3 linked regions of the Homo sapiens genome follow. The protein of the gene in region 1 interacts with the protein of each later gene in a biochemical or structural test. Each region holds a gene or a part of one and is shown on either strand. Other genes may lie near its edges.

Region 1 (7,026 bases):
CACCAGGATAAAAGGAATACTGTAATTTTCCCCCAAGTAAGCACAAGAGGCACCCAGCTAAAGTAGCTCAATGGTTCTGCTCAACTTCCTTACCTTCTGAGGCTTTCCTTCTTCTCTTCGCGTGATAAACAGCTGTCTAAATGCTTATTAATGTGACTTTCTGGAATGTTAACCCCGCAAACAGGACAATCCACTGTATTTTTTAAAAAGAAAAAGAGAGACTTTATTAATTGTAGAAGGGGCAAAAGTATGTAAACTGGCATCTTTTCAGCAAGTAAAGTAAAAAAGAATCCCAACTTAACATGCACTTAGAAAAGCAGAAAAGAAAAAGAATGGCCCATCGGGACAACAGGAGTGGGACAGACTGGTTACTGGGTAATGGCTAAATTGTGGGAAGTCACAAAATTGAAGTCCTGGTCCCAGAGAAAGAGACTGCAAATAAGCTTGAAAGTTCATTTATTAAAAATGTTTCGGTTACATCTTTTCTACCAAGGTATGACCAAACTATAGAACTCATCTTAAATTTTCCCAACCCTTAGGAGCTATCCATGTTTAGCCCAGAAGCAATAGTAACGACTTAAGTAAGACACACCTGGCCCAAGGGCCGAGTGAAGGAAAGGTAGTTTAATAATTTATTGAGTTCAATTTTGTCAATGGTTACAAATTTGTTAATTTAGCTCTCACTGATGATTCCATATATAATGTTAAAATTAAGGAACACAGTCATTCTCAAACTATTTCATAAAGTTGCAGGGATCTGTGGGGGTATCTCGGGGCCTACAGACCACCATGGATAATAGGCAGAAGGAGGTCAGGTGGAACAGAACAATCTGTTTTATCTATTTTATACGTTATGGTTTATCGTAAAATTTCATTTGGGAAAAAAGGTTCCGCTAGGGGAAAAACAGTTAACCATCAAGCTAAAAAATACTACAATAAGAACTGTCAATTGGTAAAAAGACTAAGGATAGACATAGTAGAAAATATAAGTGAAATTTATATATCTTTAAAAGATGTAAACACGTTAAGTACTAATAAACTAATTTCAATCTAAGTTTAATACACACTCACATCTCTGCACTACGTGTGGTATGGGTATACCAAAGATGTCTAAGAGTTTCTGCCTAAAAGGTGCTCTAAACTTCACTGGAAAGAAGATACAGAAACAAAAAGTTAAACAAGCTGACATATTCATCAAACAGTTAAGCAAATGGGATACAAAACAGTCCAGAAAACAAGTGCTATAGCACTTTTGTGATGTGAGACAGTGTTTTCTAACATAACAAATGAATAGTGAGGATCTGGATAGAGTCTGGAAAGGTATAGAACAGGGGCCGGCAAACATTCTTAGTGAAGGGCCAGGTAGAATTTAGACTTTACGGATCCTATGGCCTCTGTCACAACCATGCAACTCTGCCACTGTAGAATGAAAGCAGTCACAGAGAATAGGGTGGGTATGTGAACTTTTATTTACAAAAACAGGTGGCAAGCCAGATTAGATCTGCCAGTTGTAGTTTGCCAATTCCTCAGTGTACTGGAGGAACAGTGGGGAGGCTAGAGCAGGACTTCTGAGACAGAGAGGTGAGCAATAAGGCGGGATGACTAGGTTAGGCCTCAAATTGTCACAGGCTTTATATGGCAGGCAGAACAGTGAGGAGGCATTCAAGTGGTGGTAAAATAAGATAAAAAGAGCTTTTCAAGATTAAATGGGAACTGATATGTTGAATGAGGGGAAGAAAGATTAAAAGCTGAAAACAGAAAGCTACTGCCATACTTGAAGGCTGAACTAATTAAAATTGTTTCCTTTTTGTAGCAGTCAGCCTGAATTCCTGTTTCTGAGAGAGAAAGAGAACAAACATATCTACAACAATGTCTGAGGTTTGTGATATGGTAAAATCTGGTTTGTCCTTTACCATTCCTTCCCCCTCAAAGATGCTGCCTATTTATTCTTATGTCATGTGGATGAAAAGATGTCCATATTTCCACATATGAAAATAACTTCCTACCTTTAGTAACTTGTTTCAAAGTGGATGTCGAGGGTGGCTCAGGACGCTTAGCCTCTGAGGGATCTGGAGCGATCTCTTCTACAGAACGTGTCTCTTTGGTCTTTGCAGCAGGGCTCGCCTCTTTTTGAGGGCTGAATTTGCTTTTATTTTCTTTTATCAACAACTCTGATGTAGAACCACTCATTTCTCTGATCAAGAAATTATCCATTAACCTGCTCCCCTGCTTTAAAGACTGTCTGGAGGCTACAGGAGTATATACTTTGACAGCAAGATTCTTTGAAGAGGAAGAAGCAGGAGATTTGGCTGGTGACTCTAAAGCAAACTGCAGCAGATGATTCCTTGAAGCACAAAGAACACAACAGACAATTAAGAGATCCAATTTTACATCATAAATTAACTGACATAAGCTGTTTTCCCAATTAACCTTGTTTTCTGAAATACAGGACCTATACTATAATGACAACCAAACCAAAGTTTCTTCTAGTATAACTCAAAGCAATAAATCTAACGTAAAAGGCAGTTAATGTGTCAATAAAACAAAATGAAAGGAAATCAGCTTTAGGCCACAGAGAACAGCTTATATGAGACCTAATCTCCAACCATAAGTAACTTTAAAATCCGAACAAAATATACTGATATAGTCTGGATGTCGTCTCCACCAAATCTCACACTGAAATGTGATTCCCAGTGTTGGAGGTGGGACCTGGTGGAAGGTGACTGGATCATGAGGGCGAATTTCTCATGAATGGTTTAGCACCATTCCCTTAGTGCTGTCCTTGTAACAGTGAGTGAGTTCTCATGAGATCTGTTTTAAAAGGGTGTGGCACCTCCCACTCTGTCTCTCTTGCTCCCACTCTCACCACATGACATGCTGCCCGTCTTTTGTTTTCCACTGTGACTGTAAGCAGCCCAAGACCTCACTAGAAGCCGAGCAGATGGCTTGTACAGCTGCAGAACCATGAGCCAATTAAACCTCTTTTCTTTGTAAATTACCCAGCCTCAAGTTTACTTTATAGCAATGTAAGAATGGCCTAACTTGCATAAAAAACAACTCTTTGTAGGCACTGGACTGAAATCAACACAAGGCTGCAATCCCTGAAAAAGAAGAAAACATGAAGTAGTCCAACATTTCCCCCAAGACTTACTTTACCCTGGGAGCATTTTCTAGGAATGGGTACTAAAGTGAAGTCTAAACAGGAAACATTGATCTTACTTGTTAGAGAAAATAAGAGATCAGAGTTCTGAACAAAACTGGCCAGGATTGAGGGGTCAGAGTGCTTTGACACGTGGTAGCTACTGAAAGGGAACCCCACCAGTCTGCTTAGAAATTCACATCCATTCCTGCTCATTTCCAGGGCTGCACATGATTAGACAAAAACACAGGAGACCCACTAGGAAGCTGATACTGGTAAATTAAAATCCCAAACGTCAGTGCTGGAAAGTTAGTTGTTCGCATTGGAGCCCAGCCAAAGCTGAGAAATCTTGGTAAGATCATGGACATTCAAGTGACACCCCACAAAGACCACACCTTAGAAAAATGGACCACACTGAAGAAATATAAACAAAGCTCAAACAGACCTAACCTAAGAAAACATTATACCAGGCCTTGACAGAACAAAGATGAAGAGCTGATAATTTAACTGCCTCTTAGAACAAAATGTGACATCTTTCAAAAGAAGACAATTCACAGCTTCTACAACGTTTCAACCACAATGTTCAGCACATATTTTAAAATTATTGAACATGCAAAGAAGCAAGAAAAAGTAGCCACTAATCAAGAGATAAAATATTCAATAGAAGCAGACCCAGAGGTAATCCAAAGAATAGCATCTCTAGGTAAGGACTTCAAACTATGATAAACATGTTAAAGAAAAAAAAAGAAAAGGGATAAAAAGATAGTGTATTATGAGAAATAAAATCCATAAAAAAGAATAAAATGAACATTCTACAACTGCAAAATACCATATCTAAATTGGATGAGTATAACAACACACAATACAAACTTGAAGGCAGGTCAATAGAAAATATCCAAACCAAGCACAGAGAGAAAAATGAATGAAAAAGACAAACACAAAAAAGTATGAGATATTGGGCATAATTAAAAGCCCAGAAGGAACAGAAAGAAAGAATGGGAAATCAGCAATACTAGAAAAACCAATGGCTGAGAATTTTCAAATCTGATAGAAAAAAAAAATCAACCCATAGATTCCACCACTACCGAATTTACATGAAACGCAACAACAGAAAAATAACTAGAAAATCTCCAAATGTTAAGAAATAAAGCACCACACTTCTAAATAACCCCGCATGTCAAATCACAATGAAAACTAGAAAAATATTCTAAACTGAACGATAGCATGAAGGGTTGCCAAAACTGTCCCTGGAGGGAAAATTATTGAAAATAGAAAAAGTAAAAACCACCACTCTAAGCTTCCAACTTAAAAGGTTAGGAAATGAACAGCAAACTAAACCCAAAGAAGAGAGAAACTAATAACAGATACTAGTGAAATAGAAGAGATAACAAGAGAAAACAAGCAAAGCCAAACATTGGTTCTTTGAAAAAATTAACAAAACTGTTAATCCCTACTAAGACTGAACAAGAAATAAATGAGAGAAAATACAAATTACCAAAACAAAGAATTAAAAGAAGACCTCGTTACAAATCCTATAAAGAAGATAATTAGAGGATATTATGAACACTTTAAAACAACAAATTTTAAATTTTAGATAAAATGGACAAATTCTTTGAAAAGCACTATTCATCAAAACTGACAAAGAAACAGAAAACCTGAAGAGCCCTTATTATCTGTTAAAGAAACAGAAGCTATAATTTAAAACTTTTCCACAAAGAAAACTCCAAGCCCAGATGGCTTCACTGGTAAATTCTACCACATATTTAAGGAAGCTTTGTTTATTTCTTCAGTGTGGACATGGTGGCACATACCCATAGTCCTAGCTAATTGGGAGGCAGAGGCAGGAGGATCCCTTGAGCCCAAGAGTTCGAGGTTACAGTGAACCATGATCATGCCACTGCACTGCAGTCTGGGCAACAGAGCAAGAAGAAGAGAGGAAAGGGAGGAAGGGAAGGAAAGGGAGGGAGGAATAGACGGGGGAGGGAGGAATAGAGAGGGGAAGGAGAAAGGAGGAGGGAGGGAGAAAGGAAAGGAGGGAGGAAGAAAGGAAAGCAGAGAGGGAGGGAGGGAGGGAGGAAGGAAGGAAGGAAGGAAAAGTCTTGTCCATCTGTTAACTATACAATAACCTTACCTCTTCAGAATGGGGCTAAGAATCAAGAGTCAAAATAGGCCTTTGGGTAGACATGGGCAGCCATTAAATCTATGCAATCAATTCCATGGACTTCTGTAACTAAAGTCCTGCAATGCTTGTTCTGATCAGAAACATGTAAACAGCAGTCTAGAACCATTTGGCTAAACAATAAACTGTAGTCGGCCCTTCCCATCCACCAGCTCTGCATCTGTGGATTCAACTAATCACAGAGCAAAAATGTTCAAAAAATAATAAAAGTAACAATACAACAATGAAAAATAATATAAATTTTAAAAACACAGTATGACAACGATTTATATAGCATTGTATTAGGACTATAAGTAACCTAGAGGTGATTTAAAGTATAAGGGAGGATGTGCATATGCAAATACTATGCCATTTTATGTCAGGGACTTCAGCATCCACAGATTTTGGTATTCTCAGGGGTCCTGGGACCAATCCCCTTTACTGAGAGACAACTGTACTAAATTTGATCGTTTTTAGAATGCAAACCAATAAAGAAATGTGTAATTCTATTGAAAGAAATCTGTTTATATTTTTAAAAGCAACATAAGGTACCTCATAGAATGTTCCAACATGCTTTGTTCAACAAGAGACCAAATACACAGTGGTGGTTTCATTAGACGATAATGGAGCTGAAAAATTCCCATTGCTAAGTGACATCTTGATAATCCTAACCCTGTGTGGGCCTAGGCTAATGTGTGTGTTTCCATCTTCTTTTTTTTTTTTTTTTTTTTTTGAGACGGAGTCTTACTCTGTCGCCAGGCTGGAGTGCAGTGGCGTGATCTCGGCTCACTGCAACCTCCAACTCCCTGGTTCAAGCGATTCTCCTGCCTCAGCCTCCCAAGTAGCTGGGATTACAGGTGTGTGCCACCATGCCCAGCTAATTTTTGTATTTTTAGTAGAGACAGGGTTTCACCATGTTGGCCAGGATGGTCTCGATCTCCTGACCTCGTGATCCACCCACCTCGGCCTCCGAAAGTGCTGGGATTACAGGCGTCAGCCACCAAGCCCGGCCTCCATCTTCATTTTTAAGAAAAAGTTTAAAAAGGAAAAAATAATAACAATTTTTAAAAACAGAAAAAACCTCACAGAATAAGGATATAAAGAAAGATGCTTATACAGCTATACGATGTGTTTGTGTTTTAAGCTAAGTGTTATTACAAAAGAGTCAAAAAGTTAAAAAAATATAAAAGTTTACAAAGTGTAAAAGTTACAGTAAGGTTAATTATTGAAGAAACTTTTTTATAAATTTAGTGTGTAGTCTAAGTGTACAGTGTTTATAAAGTCTACAGTAGTGTATGGTAAGGGCCTTAGGCCTTCACATTCACTTATCACTCACTCATTGACTCATCAAGAGTAACTTTCAGTCCTGAAAGCTCCATTCATAGTAAATGCCCTATAAAGATGTACCATTTTTTATCTTTTATACCATATTTTCCCTGTACTTTTTCTATGTTTAGATACACTAATAGGTACCATTGTGTTGCAACTGCCTACCGTATTAGCTATAGTAACATGCTGTACAGGTTTTGTTACCAAGGAGCAATAGGCCCTGCCATATAGAATAGGAGTGTAGTAGGCTATACCATGTTGGTTTGTGTAAGTACACCGTATGATGTTCACACAGCAACCAAATTGCCTAATGACACATTTCTCAGAACACATCCCTGTTAAGCAACACATGATTACACTTAACTACAGGGGCACCTGACCACTATCTAAACCAGTACGT
Region 2 (7,026 bases), about 140 Mb from region 1:
AATTTTATTAAGTCTCATTACTTCAGTACAAATCTTTTTAATATTCTGTGTAGTGAAATGGAAACTACATATTAACTACTTCTGTTGCATATCAAACTATGAGGGTTAGCTAGAGAAAAATCACTCAAGATGGGAGTTATAAGCTCAACTAGTCACTTTTTTCATGCGACACCATTTTTACTTGAATGACAACTATCAATCACGACTGAGTGTCTGAAAGATACTTTCTAGAAAATGAACAAAGTGAGGCTGTCATCTACAAAGGAAACAACTGAGCTTGTCAATGATAAAATGTGAGTTTTCAATAGAAAATTAGAATGTTGGAAAAGTTGTGTGTGACACTATGAACATAGTGCCTTCCCAAAATGTAAATGATTTTCTAATAACATCAGTGGTAATATTAATGAATGTAAGTTTTGGATATTGCATATGAAATACATCAACATTTAGTAGGTCTGCCCAACTCAATGAACCAACATTTTCTAAATGAGCAATGCCTGGTGTTATAAAATCATACATGGGTAAAATATTCATTCAATGAGCAAGATACACAAATAGATTTTAACAAAACAGGGTATAAAAAGCTCACTGATATGATTTAGCGTTCCATATTACAACAATTAACCTTTAATAAACTAATATTTATTGAATTTTGATGCAGTATATCAAAGAAATCTGCAATTATCTAAAAAGCTATTACAATACTCCTCTCTTTACAGCAACATACCGTCGTAAGGACAAATTTTCTTCATATACTTCAACCAAAACAACCTAACAGAACAGACTGAATGAAGAAGCAGGTGAGAATTCAGCTGCCATCTATTCGGCCAAACACAGAGATGTGCAAAAATGTGACAATGCCAGTTGTTGCAACAAAAATGTTAATGTTTTGGCATAGTTATTTTTCTTTTAAAAATATGCTATTTATGTTAACAAGCAATGAGTTTGTACTGCTATCTTTAGCTACCACTGCCTAATACTATAACTACTGATAACAGCACACAAAAGCAAAAGCTCTTTGAAATCAGTAATTTTTATGAGTAGAAAGGGTTACTGAGACTGAAAAATATAAAAACTGCTAGTGTAAGGACACATAAGTATCTATTTAATACTCTGCATAACACAATATTTGTGATGGAATACAATTTCACATAACATTGTTTTGTCTTTACTTTTTAAAAGAAAACCTATGAAAGACAGGTCACCCTGAATTTCAAAGAGCAAAGAAAATTGAGAAACATGGCCAGGCAGGGTGGCTCACATCTGTAACCCCAGCACTTTGGGAGGCCAAGGCGGGCGGATCACTTGAAGTCAGGAGTTCAAAACCAGCCTGGCCAACGTGGTAAAACCCTGTCTCTACTAAAAATACAAAAATTAGCTGGGCATGGTGGCACATGCCTGTAATCCCAGCTATTTGGAAGTCTGAGACAGGAGAACTGCTTGAACCTGGGAGGCGGAGGCTGCAGTGAGCCAAGATCGCGTCACTGCACTCCAGCCTGGGTGACAGAGCAAGACTCCATCTCAAAAAAAAAAAAAAGAAAACTGAGGAACACATCTTTATACCACTATTTTAACTAAAAACTACAGGAAAAACTGTGTTCTACAAAGATAGTAAGATCTAGTCCCAAACTGGTACCAACATATTCCTATCTCTTTTTACTTCAAAATTACTTTCTAGAAAATCATAATCACAAAATTAGATTTTATTAACTAAAGAAAAAAATAATTACCAAACCCATATCATCAGCTAAAATTCCTCCATGGACATTTTCTGGTCGGTCCTTCTCAGAAAAATTTGTTATTGTGTTATAGTATAAGTCATTTCGCTGTTCCCAGAATGGTGGAAGTTCTTTGCTATTTTCCCGTGACACCATCCAAGCTAGAGCTTGTTTTTGATGTGGAAGCAGTGGTGTTTCAATAGCCTATAAATAAAAAGTCATAAAGCGAAATACATTAAGCCATTCCTTTTTCACATGCAGATCCTGTGATTAAACAAAAAGTAGATTCTAAGTATATTTAAACATTCTGAGTAGTCTTAAATAAAAAATATTGGTTCAATACCTCAGCTGGTTCCATTTCATGGGTTTTATCATCTTCTTTTAAATCTTCAAACAATTTGTCAAATTCTGTTTTAAGCTACAATAAACAGCAACAAGAAACAATGTAAAACAAACTAATTAAAATAATACTTGCATTTAAGTCAGATTTGAAATCATTTAATTAACTGGCGTTAATGTCAAACGGGCCAGGAGTGGTGGCTCATGCCAATAATCTCAGCACTTTGGGAGACCAAGGTGGGAGGATCACTTGAGCTCAGGAGTTTGAGACCAGCCTGGATAACATAGTGAGAGATCCCATCTCTACAAAAAAATTTTTAAAAAATTAGCCAGGCATGGGGGTGCATGCCTGTAGTTCTGGCTCCTAGGGATGCTGAGATGGGAGGATCACTTCAGCCTAGTAGGTAGAGGATAGAGTGAACCATGATTATGCCACTGCACTCCAGCCTGGGCAAGAAAGTGAGACCCTGTCCCAAAAAATTAAGAAATTGAAATTAAATTAAATTTAAAAACCACAAACTAGTCAAACGCCAAAAAGGCACATAAATCAACTCTAGAATTACACTACTCACTGAAGAGCGAATGAACAGGTGCTTTAGTTGTTAGGAGGTAAAAGAATATAAAAGAATTTTAAGTCCCGAGTTTCAGTCACAGTTTTATCACAAATAAGCTTATATGTAAGTTTCAGCAAGACTTGACCTTTATGGCCCCATGTCTTATTCCTATAAAATGAAAGGGATGAACTAAATTTAGATTGTCTCTAAGGTTCCTTCTGCCATTAAAATTCTGTGATGCTATCAGTTGTATTCAAAATATTTTCTCAGTCCTACCAGGTCAATGACATTCCATTTATTATTACTGCAATAAGGAACTTGCCATGCACTATAGGATACTTTTATTATTATGCTAACTTAATTGACTATTTAAACTAGGTTAGTCCAATTTTATATCAACATATATGTGATACAGATATTTTTGAAAATTAACACATGAACACAGCAGCAGCTCAGAAGAAATCAGGCCAGGTCTAAAAAATCAGAAGTAACCGGGGGCTTATCTACCAGAAACAAGCTCAAGTCCTTCTAACAATAAGCAGGGTAAATATGGTAACTACAATTAGTAGATAAAAGGACTAACACTGGTAGATACAAACATCAAAAAAGTTTTAATGTTATTTTTAAATTGATCTGCATTAATTACTTTATATACTTTTTTTTCAAAGAAATTCAGCATAACTCATCCTAAATTACAAATTAGACAATGTGAAGAATTTGGAGTTAAATCTTTAGCACTGCATTTGCAAAATTACTGAAAGGAGTTAAGTCTCAGCTTCAATTTTTTTCTTAAAATTACTACTTGAACATTTAAAACATTTCAGATACAAAAATATGCCGTGCATAAACAGGAACGTGTGTGTTTTGTATGTTGGGTACAAATGTTCACGTATGGATTTATTCCTTATCAGTACTTTTTATATAAAATGTTAACATATATATATTCTATTTATTCTATAACATGTTTCATTATAACTTAATATATTTGAAGACCACAAATACCCACACGTACATATTCATCCTGTTCTTTTAAATACAAACCTGCAACATTTAAAATTCACTTTTAGATTACAAAATAAAAGAGAAGCACACCTGTTCAGTTGTCATCTGTACTGCAGCATGCACTGGCATACTATAGCTTGGTCCAGCTCTTCCAGAGCCCCAACCACTTTCCAAATTGAATCCTAAAGCTATAATTTACAAAATAAAAAGAATAAAGCCATCAAATAAAGTAGGTTTTTATCTTTTATTAAGTAGCTTTTAAAATATGCATTAACAGGGCTGGGTGCTGTGGCTCATGCCTGTAACCCAAGCACTTTGGGAGGCCAAGGCAGGTGGTTTGCCTGAGTCCAGTAGTTTGAGACTAGCCTGGGCAACATGGTGAGATTCTGTCTCTACAAAAAATACAAAAATTAGCAGAGCGTGATGGTGTGCGCCTGTAGTCCCAGCTACTCAGGAGGCTCAGGTGGAAGGACTGCTGGAGCCCAGGAGGTCAAGGTTGCACTCAGCCACTGATCGTGGCCACTGTACTCTAGCCTGGGTGACAGAGCAAGACTCTGTCTCAAAATATATACACAAATAAATAAATAAAACGTGCATAACAAACTGCATTAAAAGCCTTGTATTTTAGAGGTATTTTAAAAGCTAAATACTAAATCACTAAAAAAACAAGTAATTCCACATTATTTGAACAAACTCTTGCCAAGCAATCCTTTTCATTCGCTATCAGAAGATTATTTTTGCCTAAAATTTATCAAAAAGAATGTTTAAAGTCAGGGGTTTCCAGATGTTACCATTAGGGAAAATTAGGGGAGGGTATATATGAGACTTCATTGCATATATACTTTTTCTTTAATTTTTTTAATATCCCCTCACTCTTACTGTGTATATTTTTATGTGTGAATCTATTTCAATAGAGGCAAAAGGAAAAATCAGAGATTTCCTCAAAAAGACTCCTGAAAAAAAGTTGTACCTTGGAGCCTTGAGCACAAATTAGCCAACAAACTCCAAGAGAGAATAAATGTTTCATAATCCCTGCATCTTACAATATCAGAATAATATTAAGTGAAACCCTAAACTTACTTTTTGGTGCAGGACCCAATTTAAATCCATGTTTCTTCAACTGATCTGAAACCGCTTTTCTATTTTCTTCTTTTCCCCAAAAAGTCATATGCAGAGGCATGGTAAAAGCATTGTTTGCACCAAAAGGAACTACCCTATTATATTTGGGAGAAAAAGAAAGGGAAATCAGAAGCATTACTTTTTATCCCCACTAAGAATTAGTTCAATATTTTAAGTGTATCATTTACATTTTACATTGAAGTAAAGTAATAAGGAACTAGTTGGGCAGACTTGAAAGAAAAAAAGGAAAAGAAATAGAACCATAAACAATCAGAAGGGTGATTTTTAGAAACAGAGTGCCAGAAAAAATTGAGAAAATGGAATAAAGCAGTTTTAAAAATGCAAGGATGGCCTGTAAACAAGATTGTAATATAAGTAAAATAAGTTAAATCAAAGGGTAGAGTTTGGCTAACGGAACCACTGAGGGTAGTAACTCATTCTGCTTGGAAAATGGGAAATGCAAGAACTTGTGATTCACTAAGTTATTCTCAATAACTGAAAAACCTGATAAACTGAAAAAGGAGAAAACAAAGTGAGACATTATGAGCATTTATTTTCTCTTCAAACTCACCTAGGATTATATGAATATCCTAAAAATTAGAATTAGAATATCAAGATCCTAAATATTCCAGATACTTAAATTGAGATCACAAGTACAAATGCCTAAAAGAGAAAAGGTAACTGAAAGATTGAAAGAGTTTAGAAAAAGAAAAAAGAAACAGGTGATAAAACTGGGAGAGCATATGCCCTAGCTAAAGGGAGAGTTCCAGTCAACTATTGTCATATGGAAGTGACAACTCATCCTGCATTGCCAGATTTCCCACTTGTCAAGAGAAAAATAAGTTTTTTGTATTTAAGAAAATAAATTAATATGTATAAAATGCGGACTTAGCTATTTCAATAATTAGTACTGAACGAAAAAATGTCTAAAACACTGCAGGGCAAAATGAAATTCACCTACATCATATCACAGAATACCAGTTTATAACCTCTGATATAAACAAACACTTCCAGGCTGGGCACGGTGGCTCACGCCTGTAATCCCAGCATTTTGGGAGGCCGAGGCGGGCAGATCACCTGAGGTCAGGAGTTCGAGACAGCCTGGCCAACATGGCAAATCTCTGTCTCTACTAAAAAATACAAAAATTAATTGGGCATGGTGGCAGGCACCTGTAGCTACTCAGGAGGCTAAGGCAGGGAGAGTTGCTTGAACCCTGGAGGCGGAGGTTGCAGTCAGCCGAGATCACACAACTGCACTGCAGCCTGGGCAACAGAGTGAGACTTCGTCTCAAAATAAATAAATAAATAAATAAACAAATAAACACTTCCAAATTCCTAAACCTAGGTACCAAAAGGTTTGGAGAAATGGAATGTACTTCCTAATATTTGAACCAAGGTCTATTTTCTCCATGGTAATAATTCCATAGGAAAATGAGAGGACAATTGTTTGATGGCTGGGGTAGTAGAAGTATGTAAAAGGAGAAATAAAACATTTATTTAACACGTACCAAAAGTACAGTGATAGAAATTGTTAGCATACCTTTATAGGCTCTAACAAGAAGCCCTAACAAGTTCAAAGATGACTATAATTCACAATTATTAAAACTAAATTCTGAAAGTACATTACCCTTCAATTTGTGCCAATTTGTTGTCCATGATATAGGCCAAAGCACCTGCAAGCTCTTTCTTTAAATGGCCAACTTGATTTCCATTCACATTGTTTACTTTAATTGCATTCTTATCATAAGGGTTATTAGGATCTCGTTGTAATGCAACCATTTCATTATTATTAACCTAATAAAAATGATAAACAGATAATATTACATTATAAATAATAGACAATAACTTTGTTATACTTTATCTGGGATTTCCATTCATTTTTTAATGCTACTGCTAAACACTGCACATAAGAAAAATATATTTTCTAGACACAAACTACAGAAATATTAATATATATTATTATGACTCCTTAATATTATTTTTCTAATCTATATTCATTAGGAAGTTAACAAATCCTTAATGTCTTAAAAAATAGTCAAATGTAAACTAGCAAATTCAAATTATCTAAAATTTTCAACATCATAACTTCTGAAAAATAGCCAACCCTTATTGAGCGCTTACTATGTGCCAAGCATTGGTCTAAGTACATTGCACAGACTGACTTTTTAAATCCTCACAGCTCTATTGGGAGGTACTATCATTATTCCCATTTTACAAATGAAGAAACTGAAGCACAGAAAAGTAACTTGCCCAAGGTCACAAAGCTAAAAGGTAGCAGAGCTAGGATCTGAACC
Region 3 (7,026 bases), on another chromosome or scaffold:
TCACACAGTGCTGGATCATCTCCTTTACCAGCAGTGGGTGGGGCTCGTCACAGACCTGGCCAAAGGGAAAGGAAAGGCGGTCAGGGGCTAGAAGGGACAATGTGAGCGGGGAGGCCCCAACAGACCGACTTCCAGGCAATCTATGGGTAAAACTTCTCAACCTGTTGTTTTCATCAAATTCTCCAGCAACCAGGATGAGTTTGGGGAATGCTCCTCTCACCATCAAAGAGAAGTGCTTCCGGCACCAGGAAGATAAATTTCCCAAACATAAGACAGATGAACAAGAGAGCAACCAAGGGCCTGTGAAGGATGCTCACTTGGGGACAGCTTTAAAGTCACAAGTCATCTGTCTTAGATCACTTGGGGGGTCAGTTGCCCAGAACCACTTGGAATTCACTTTAGAACTGGGAGGTCTTTTGGGCCAATTCCCACCTCCACCCCGGAGTAGGAACTGGCCTTCCCTACAAAAGGTCCCCCAGCCTCAGCCTGACACCCTAAACAAGGGGTCAGGCTACTCCAGCAGGCAGGTGCATGGTGCTGGGGACTCCGTCCTCCCTGCAGCATTCTCCGCAGTGGCATGAGGCTCTGCCTCTGGTACAATGTCGACCCCTACATCTTCCCAATGAAAGCCTCCTGATGGCTCCAGAGGTCACCCACACCTGCCCTTGCCTTTTCCCGGTGGAAGCCATGGTTTCCTGAGCCCTCAGTGACCCTCCAAGACAAAACAGGGCCCGAACCATCACCCCTGTTTCTGAGCGGGCCTCCCCTTCCTAAGTGGCCTCGAAAATGCATTCACTGCCCAGATCTACCCAGATGCTTCAAAAATCGCTTGTCTGTTGTCCACAAACCTGGTAAGAAACAGCTATAGGCTGAAAGCTTGGACAGCCCTTCCCAGTTTCTTCCCCCAAATAAGGGGGAAGTGAATCTCTCAAATGGCATTTAGACGCGGAGTTATCAGGATGCGGAAGCAGTTTTCAAAAGAATTCCCAAGAGAAAAATGTTTTGCTGACATGGGAGAGTAAGTGAGAAACCTTTTCCTCAGCCTGGCTTTGAGGGTTACTACCCACCCTCCAGGGGCAGAAGTGGGGAGCAGGGCACAGCATTGCAGAAAAAACCCAGGGTGTGGGGTCTGAAGGCTACTGGGGAACAGCACAGTGCTCCTGCCTGCCCTTTAGGGGCCAGGGGATCCCCTGGGCCCACGTCATCACCCACAATGTGATGGTGAGAACCTCTGTGCAGGGAAGTCGCTGGGATCAAATAAGACACGTCAGAAATTGCTCGACCCTGGGTCTGATGCATCCGTGGTCCTCCCTCACCTACCACACACAAGTGACGTTCCAGGTCCCCCGAAACTCTCCAGCTTGTGCAGCAAAGCAGCAATAGGGAGAGGACAGACGGGAGCAGGGTGGGCTCCCTGGCACCCACAAGAGCAGCTAGATGTCCGTCCCCACTGCCAGCCCAGCCCTTCAGCCCCACTGGCCCCCACAGGGAAGCACGGCTTCTGCTGACAGTACCACCCACACTAGCGCTTGTACCTTGAACACGTTCTCACTGTTAATGAAGCCAAATCCTGAGAAGGTGGACTGCAGGTTGTTCAGCGCCTGTTCAGGAGCAAACACATGTCAAGGATGATTTTTATATTTATTTCTTTTTGAGTAGAGACAGGAGTCTCGCTATGTTGCCCAGGCTGGTCTCGAACTCCTGGGCTTAAGCGATTCTCCCACCTCCGCCTCCCAAGTGCTGGGATTACAGGCATGAGCCACCGCACCGGGCCAAGGGTGACTTTTTTTTTTTTTTTTTTTTTTTGAGACAGAGTCTCACTCTGTCACCCAGCATGGAGTGTAGTGGCACAATCTCGAGTCACTGCAATCTCCGTATCCCAGGTTCAAGCGATTCTTCTGCCTCGGCCTCCTGAGTAGCTGGGATTACAGGCACCCACCACCATGCCCAGCTTTTTTTTTTGAGACAGAGTCTCGCTCTGTCGCCCAGGCTGGAGTGCAGTGGTGCTATCTCAGCTCACTGCAAGGTCCGCCTCCCAGGTTAATGCCATTCTCTTGCCTCAGCCTCACGAGTAGCTGAGACTACAGGCGCCCACCACCACGCCTGGCTAATTTTTTGTATTTTTAGTAGAGATGAGGTTTCACCATGTTAACCAGGCTGGTCATGAACTCCTGACCTCGTGATCCACCCGCCTTGGCCTTCCAAAGTGTTGGGATTATAGGCGTGAGCCACTGTGCCTGGCCATGCCTGGCTAATTTTTTAATTTTTTTTAGTAGAGATGGGATTTCACCATGTTGGCCAGGCTGGTCTTGAACTCCTGACCTCAGGTGATCCTCCTGCCTCAGCCTCCGGGGTGACTTTTAAAGCTCTGCCCTTCCCTGCCTCTCTTCTTGGAGTCCGAGCTAGACAGCCCACTGTCCCAGGAGGGTGCCAGGTCTCTGTCTCTTTCTCTTGTTGTACCTTGTGCAGCTGTCACTTCCCTCCCCTTCCCCATGGAAGGGGCATGGCAGGCACAGGATGCCCACGCCTGAATGGTAGCAGCCCACATACCTGCCTCATGTCTCCCTGGGCCGTGAAGATGATGGCTTCTAGGCCGTCATCAGTGTAGGGTACCCTCTCCTTCTCGATAACATTCATCAGCCTGGTGAGGATCTGGGCGTCGGTCAGCTTTGTGTACCGGAGGACTGCACAGCGGGACTGAATGGGCTCTGAACAGAGACGGGACAGTAGTGAGGCTTCCCTGCAGAGGCCGGCATCATCCTGCTAGCTCTTTGGTCATAAGGCTGCAGCTGCACAATCCACACAGCCCCAGGCACTCAATAGAGACTTGGTAGGCCGGACACGAGGGCTCACGCCTGAATCCCAGCACTTTGGGAGGCTGAGGCGGGAGGATCACTTGAGGACAGGAGTTTGAGACCAGCCTGGACAACATGGTGAAACCCCATCTCTACTAAAAATACAAAAATTAGCTGGGTGTGGTGTCGCACGTCTGTAATCCTAGCTACTCAGGAGGCTAAGGCAAGAGACTCGCTTGAGCACGAGAGTTGGAGGCTGAAGTGAGCCAAGATCACACTACTGCACTCCAGCCTGGACAACAGAGCGAGGCTGTGTCTCCAAAAAAAAAAAAAAAAAAAAGAGAGAGAGAGAGACTTGGTAAACACAGGGTGATATGTCAAGGTGTCAACCAATAAGCAATGACAGAGGCCTCAGTTGGCACTGCCCACATGGCCTTGGCTAGCCACGGCTTCCAGACGGGGAAATGATCCTCCAGTAGAAACACATCCATGTGCCTGCCACAAGCTGTTAGATGAGTCAGCCCTGGCCCAGGTGGACTCTGGAATTGGTGTGTGCTGGATGTTGGCCCTTCTGGGCACATGACAATTCAATCTGAATGGGCCAACCCAGTTTCTTTCTTTTTTTTTCATAGACAGGGTTTTGCTGTTGCCCAGGCTGCTCTCGAACTCCTGGCCTCAAGTAGTCTTCCTGCCTCAGCCTCCCAAAGTGCAGGGATTACAGGTGTGAGCCACCATGCCTGGCCAGTTTCTTTCTTTCTTTTTTTTACTGAGACCAAGTCTCTCTGTTGCCCAGGCTGGAGTGCAGTGGTGTGATCTAGGCTCACTGCAACCTCCACCTCCCAGGTTCAAGTGATTCTCCTGTCTCAGCCTCCTGAGTAGCTGGGATTACAGGCGCACGCTATCACACCCGGCTAATTTTTGTATTTTTAGTAGAAATGGGGTTTCACCATGTTGGCCAGGTTGGTCTCGAACTCCAGACCTTAGGGGATCCACCTGCCTCGGCCTCCCAAAGTGCTGGGATTACAGGCATGAGCCACTGTGCCCTGCCAAATCAAGACCTAGGAATGCATTTTTCTCCATTTCATTGCTGGCATCTGCAAAGTGGAGAATACTTCTCATTAAACTCCACGAGCTCTCCACTAGCATGGTGCCTGGCGGCTACTAAGAACCAGAGTTAAGCGTTCGGTGAATGGGTTAATGAATCAATGCACAAATCAGTGCGATTTTGGGAAGGGAAAAGAATGCAAAGGATTCTTGACACTGCTGAGAGCCCCACCAGGGCTGGTAGCCATGACTTTGTGGGTGCCATATTTGGTAATGCGCTCGTCGGCAACAGCGGCCTGGGTGGCAAGGGGGTTGTCAGATGGATGAGCTCATATGGTTGGGGTTCAGCAGGGCAGAAGTGAGGCAAAGAAAGCGGCTGAGAGAGCAATGAAAAATGAGGAAAGAGGACAGCTGGGCTGTGCAGGCAGCCTGTGTCAGAAAGAGAAGGATGGGCCAGCCGTGGTGGCTCACGCCTATAATCCCAGCACTTTGCGAGGCCGAGGTGGGCAGACCACTTGAGGCCAGGCGTTCTAGACCAGCCTGGGCAACATGGTGAAACCTCGTCTCTAAGAAAAATACAAAAATTAGCCTGGCATGGTGGCACATGCCTGTAATCCCAGCTACTGAGGAGGCTGAGGTAGGAAAATCACTTGAATCCAGGCAGCGGAGATAGCAGTGAGCTGAAATCGCAACACTGCACTCCAGCCTGGGCGACAGAGCGAGACTCTCTCTACAAAAAAAAGAAAGAGAAGGATGTGAAACCAGCAGGAAGTTGACAGACTAGAGCACTCTTGGGACCTGGGGCGGGACAAACCCATGCAGAAGCAGACAGGCTGCAGGGAGGGAGGTGGAAGGGCAAACAGTAAGGTTAGAGAAAAGACGGACTGCAGGATTTGAGAGAGGAGCTTCCCGGAGGCAACAAATTCCAATGTACAGATACTGCCTATACCAAGTACTCAGAGCACATGAATAGCACAAGAAGGTATCTGGAGAGCGACTGTGATCGTGACACCGTGCAGGGGACATCAACAACATCCTTGTGCCTCCAAGAGTGCAAGAGGGTGATAGAACTGGGGCTCCAATCCCAGCTGCTCTTGCACTTGCTCTGACTTTGGGGAAACTACTCAACCTCTCCAAGCTCGTTTTCTTTCTCTTTTTTCCTTAGATCCTAAACATCAGGATAAGCTCCAGTTTTCTCATCTCTAAACTGAAGCGAATAATACCTCCTCATAGGATTATGTAAGATTAAATTTAAAAGTTGATTACAATGGGAAACATGTGCATAATATATACAATTTCTCCTTGTCAATTAAAAAAATATAAATTTAAAAACTTGATTATATAGTGCTTGGCCCATGCTACACAATAAAAAAATCCCTACTCTTCCAGCGCTAAAGAGCCAAGGCGAGGCCAGGTGCAGTGGCTCACATCTGTAATTCCAGCACTTTGGGAGGCCGAGGCAGGCGATCACGAGGTCAGACGTTTGAGACCAGCCTGGCCAACATGGTGAAACCCCATCTCTTAAAAAAAAAAAAAAAAAAAAAAAATTAGCTGGGTGTGGTTGTGCGAGCCTGTAATCCCAGCTACGCAGGAGGCTGAAGCACAAGAATTGCTTGAACCTTGGAGGTGGAGGTTGCAGTGATCTGAGATCGTGCCATTGCACTCCAGCCTAGGCGACAGAGTGAGACTTTGTCTCAAAAAAAAAAAAAAAATCCAGGTGTGGTGGCACAGGCCTGTAGTCTCAGCTACTGGGAGGCTGAGGCAGGAAGACCACTTGAGCACAGGAGTTTGAGGCTGCAGTGAGCTGTGATGGCACCACTGCACTCCAGCCTGAGCGAAGAGGGAGACCACATCTATAAAAAAGAAAAAAGCCCAGTTGAGCACCACGTGGCCCCCAGCCACCGAAAGCTCCCACTCACCGATGATCTTATCCGAAGCATTACAAGCAAGGGCGAAGCGAGTGGTTTTAGAGTAGATTTCCATGGTTCTCCTCAAGGCTTGCTGGGCTCCGTCGGTCATGCTGAGAAGAAAAACACAAGTTTGCAAGTGGGACCCAGAGACCATGTGACACAAATCGTTCCCTATACAAAAACCCAGGACATAAGACACATCCAATGTCCTAAATGAGGGTCTCATTGGAAGTACGCAGGCCATCCCTCTAATGCTAACACCTGCAGGCCGCTCTCTCAAAGACTGTGCAAACAGCATTTAGTACCTACAGCATCAGAACAACCCTCAAGTGAAACTCACGAAAACCACGATCTACAAGGGCTGCCATCACACTTGTGGGAATTGGTTCTCTCCAGTCCTTCATGACACAAATTCAGGAGAACAATCATGACACCAGCTGCCAACTTTTCTTTCTTCCTTTTTTATTCTTTTTTTTTTCTTAAAGAGACAGGTTCTTGCTGTCACCCAGGCTGCAGTGCAATGGTGGAATCATAGCTCACTGCAGCCTCGAACTCCTGGGCTCAAGCAATCCTCCCATCTCAAAAGGCTGATGCGGGAGGACCGCTTGAGACCAGGAGTTCGAGACCAGCCTGGGCAACAAAGTAAGACCTCTATTTCTACAAAAAATTTTAAAAAATACAAAAAAGCCTGTTTACCAGATTATCATAATGTAGAGCAATGCCTACAACATTAAAAGGAAAAACCAGGATACAAAAATTATATATATTATGATCTCAACTGTGTAAACATTGATAGTATATAAAAAGAGAAGAAAAAAAGCAAGTTATTAATGGCCAGGCATAGTGGCTCATGCCTGTAATCCCAGCACATTGGGAGGCCGAGGCAGGTGGCTCTCTTGAGGTCAGGAGTTCAAGACCAGCCTGGCCAACACAGCAAAACGTCAACTCTACTAAAAATACAAAAAAAAAAAAAAAAAAAAAATTGTCTGGGCGTGGTGGCGCACGTCTGTAGTCCCAGCTACTCGTGAGGCTGAGGCAGGAGAATCACTTGAATCCAGGAGGCAGAGGTTGCAGTGAGCCAAGATCATGCCACTGCACTCCAGCCTGGGCAACAGAGTGAGGCTCCACCTCAAAAAAATAAATAAATAAAAAGGCAGCAAACTATTAATATATTCTAAATTTTCTTCAAAGAACATGAATTACTGCCACATTAAAAAAAAAAAATTTTTTTTTTGAAACAGAGTCTTGCTCTGTTGCCCAGGCTGGTGTGCACTGGC

Evidence for each region. The genes of interacting proteins can lie anywhere in the genome.
Region 2: the proteins of RAD18 (region 1) and HLTF form a complex in vitro, tested with the Homo sapiens proteins (2 studies listed by BioGRID).
Region 3: of the proteins of RAD18 (region 1) and RFC2, one has a biochemical effect on the other in vitro, tested with the Homo sapiens proteins (one study listed by BioGRID).

The regions. Positions count from the first base shown.
Region 1 is NC_000003.12:8,939,461-8,946,486, forward strand, and holds part of RAD18 (E3 ubiquitin-protein ligase RAD18), read right to left. Parts: intron 2,345-7,026; coding exon 2,007-2,344; intron 194-2,006; coding exon 94-193; intron 1-93. UniProt on the Homo sapiens protein: E3 ubiquitin-protein ligase involved in postreplication repair of UV-damaged DNA. Postreplication repair functions in gap-filling of a daughter strand on replication of damaged DNA.
Region 2 is NC_000003.12:149,069,522-149,076,547, forward strand, and holds part of HLTF (helicase-like transcription factor), read right to left. Parts: intron 6,527-7,026; coding exon 6,360-6,526; intron 4,828-6,359; coding exon 4,694-4,827; intron 3,802-4,693; coding exon 3,704-3,801; intron 2,137-3,703; coding exon 2,062-2,136; intron 1,923-2,061; coding exon 1,731-1,922; intron 1-1,730. UniProt on the Homo sapiens protein: Has both helicase and E3 ubiquitin ligase activities. Possesses intrinsic ATP-dependent nucleosome-remodeling activity; This activity may be required for transcriptional activation or repression of specific target promoters.
Region 3 is NC_000007.14:74,237,388-74,244,413, forward strand, and holds part of RFC2 (replication factor C subunit 2), read right to left. Parts: intron 5,860-7,026; coding exon 5,759-5,859; intron 2,709-5,758; coding exon 2,551-2,708; intron 1,602-2,550; coding exon 1,536-1,601; intron 56-1,535; coding exon 1-55.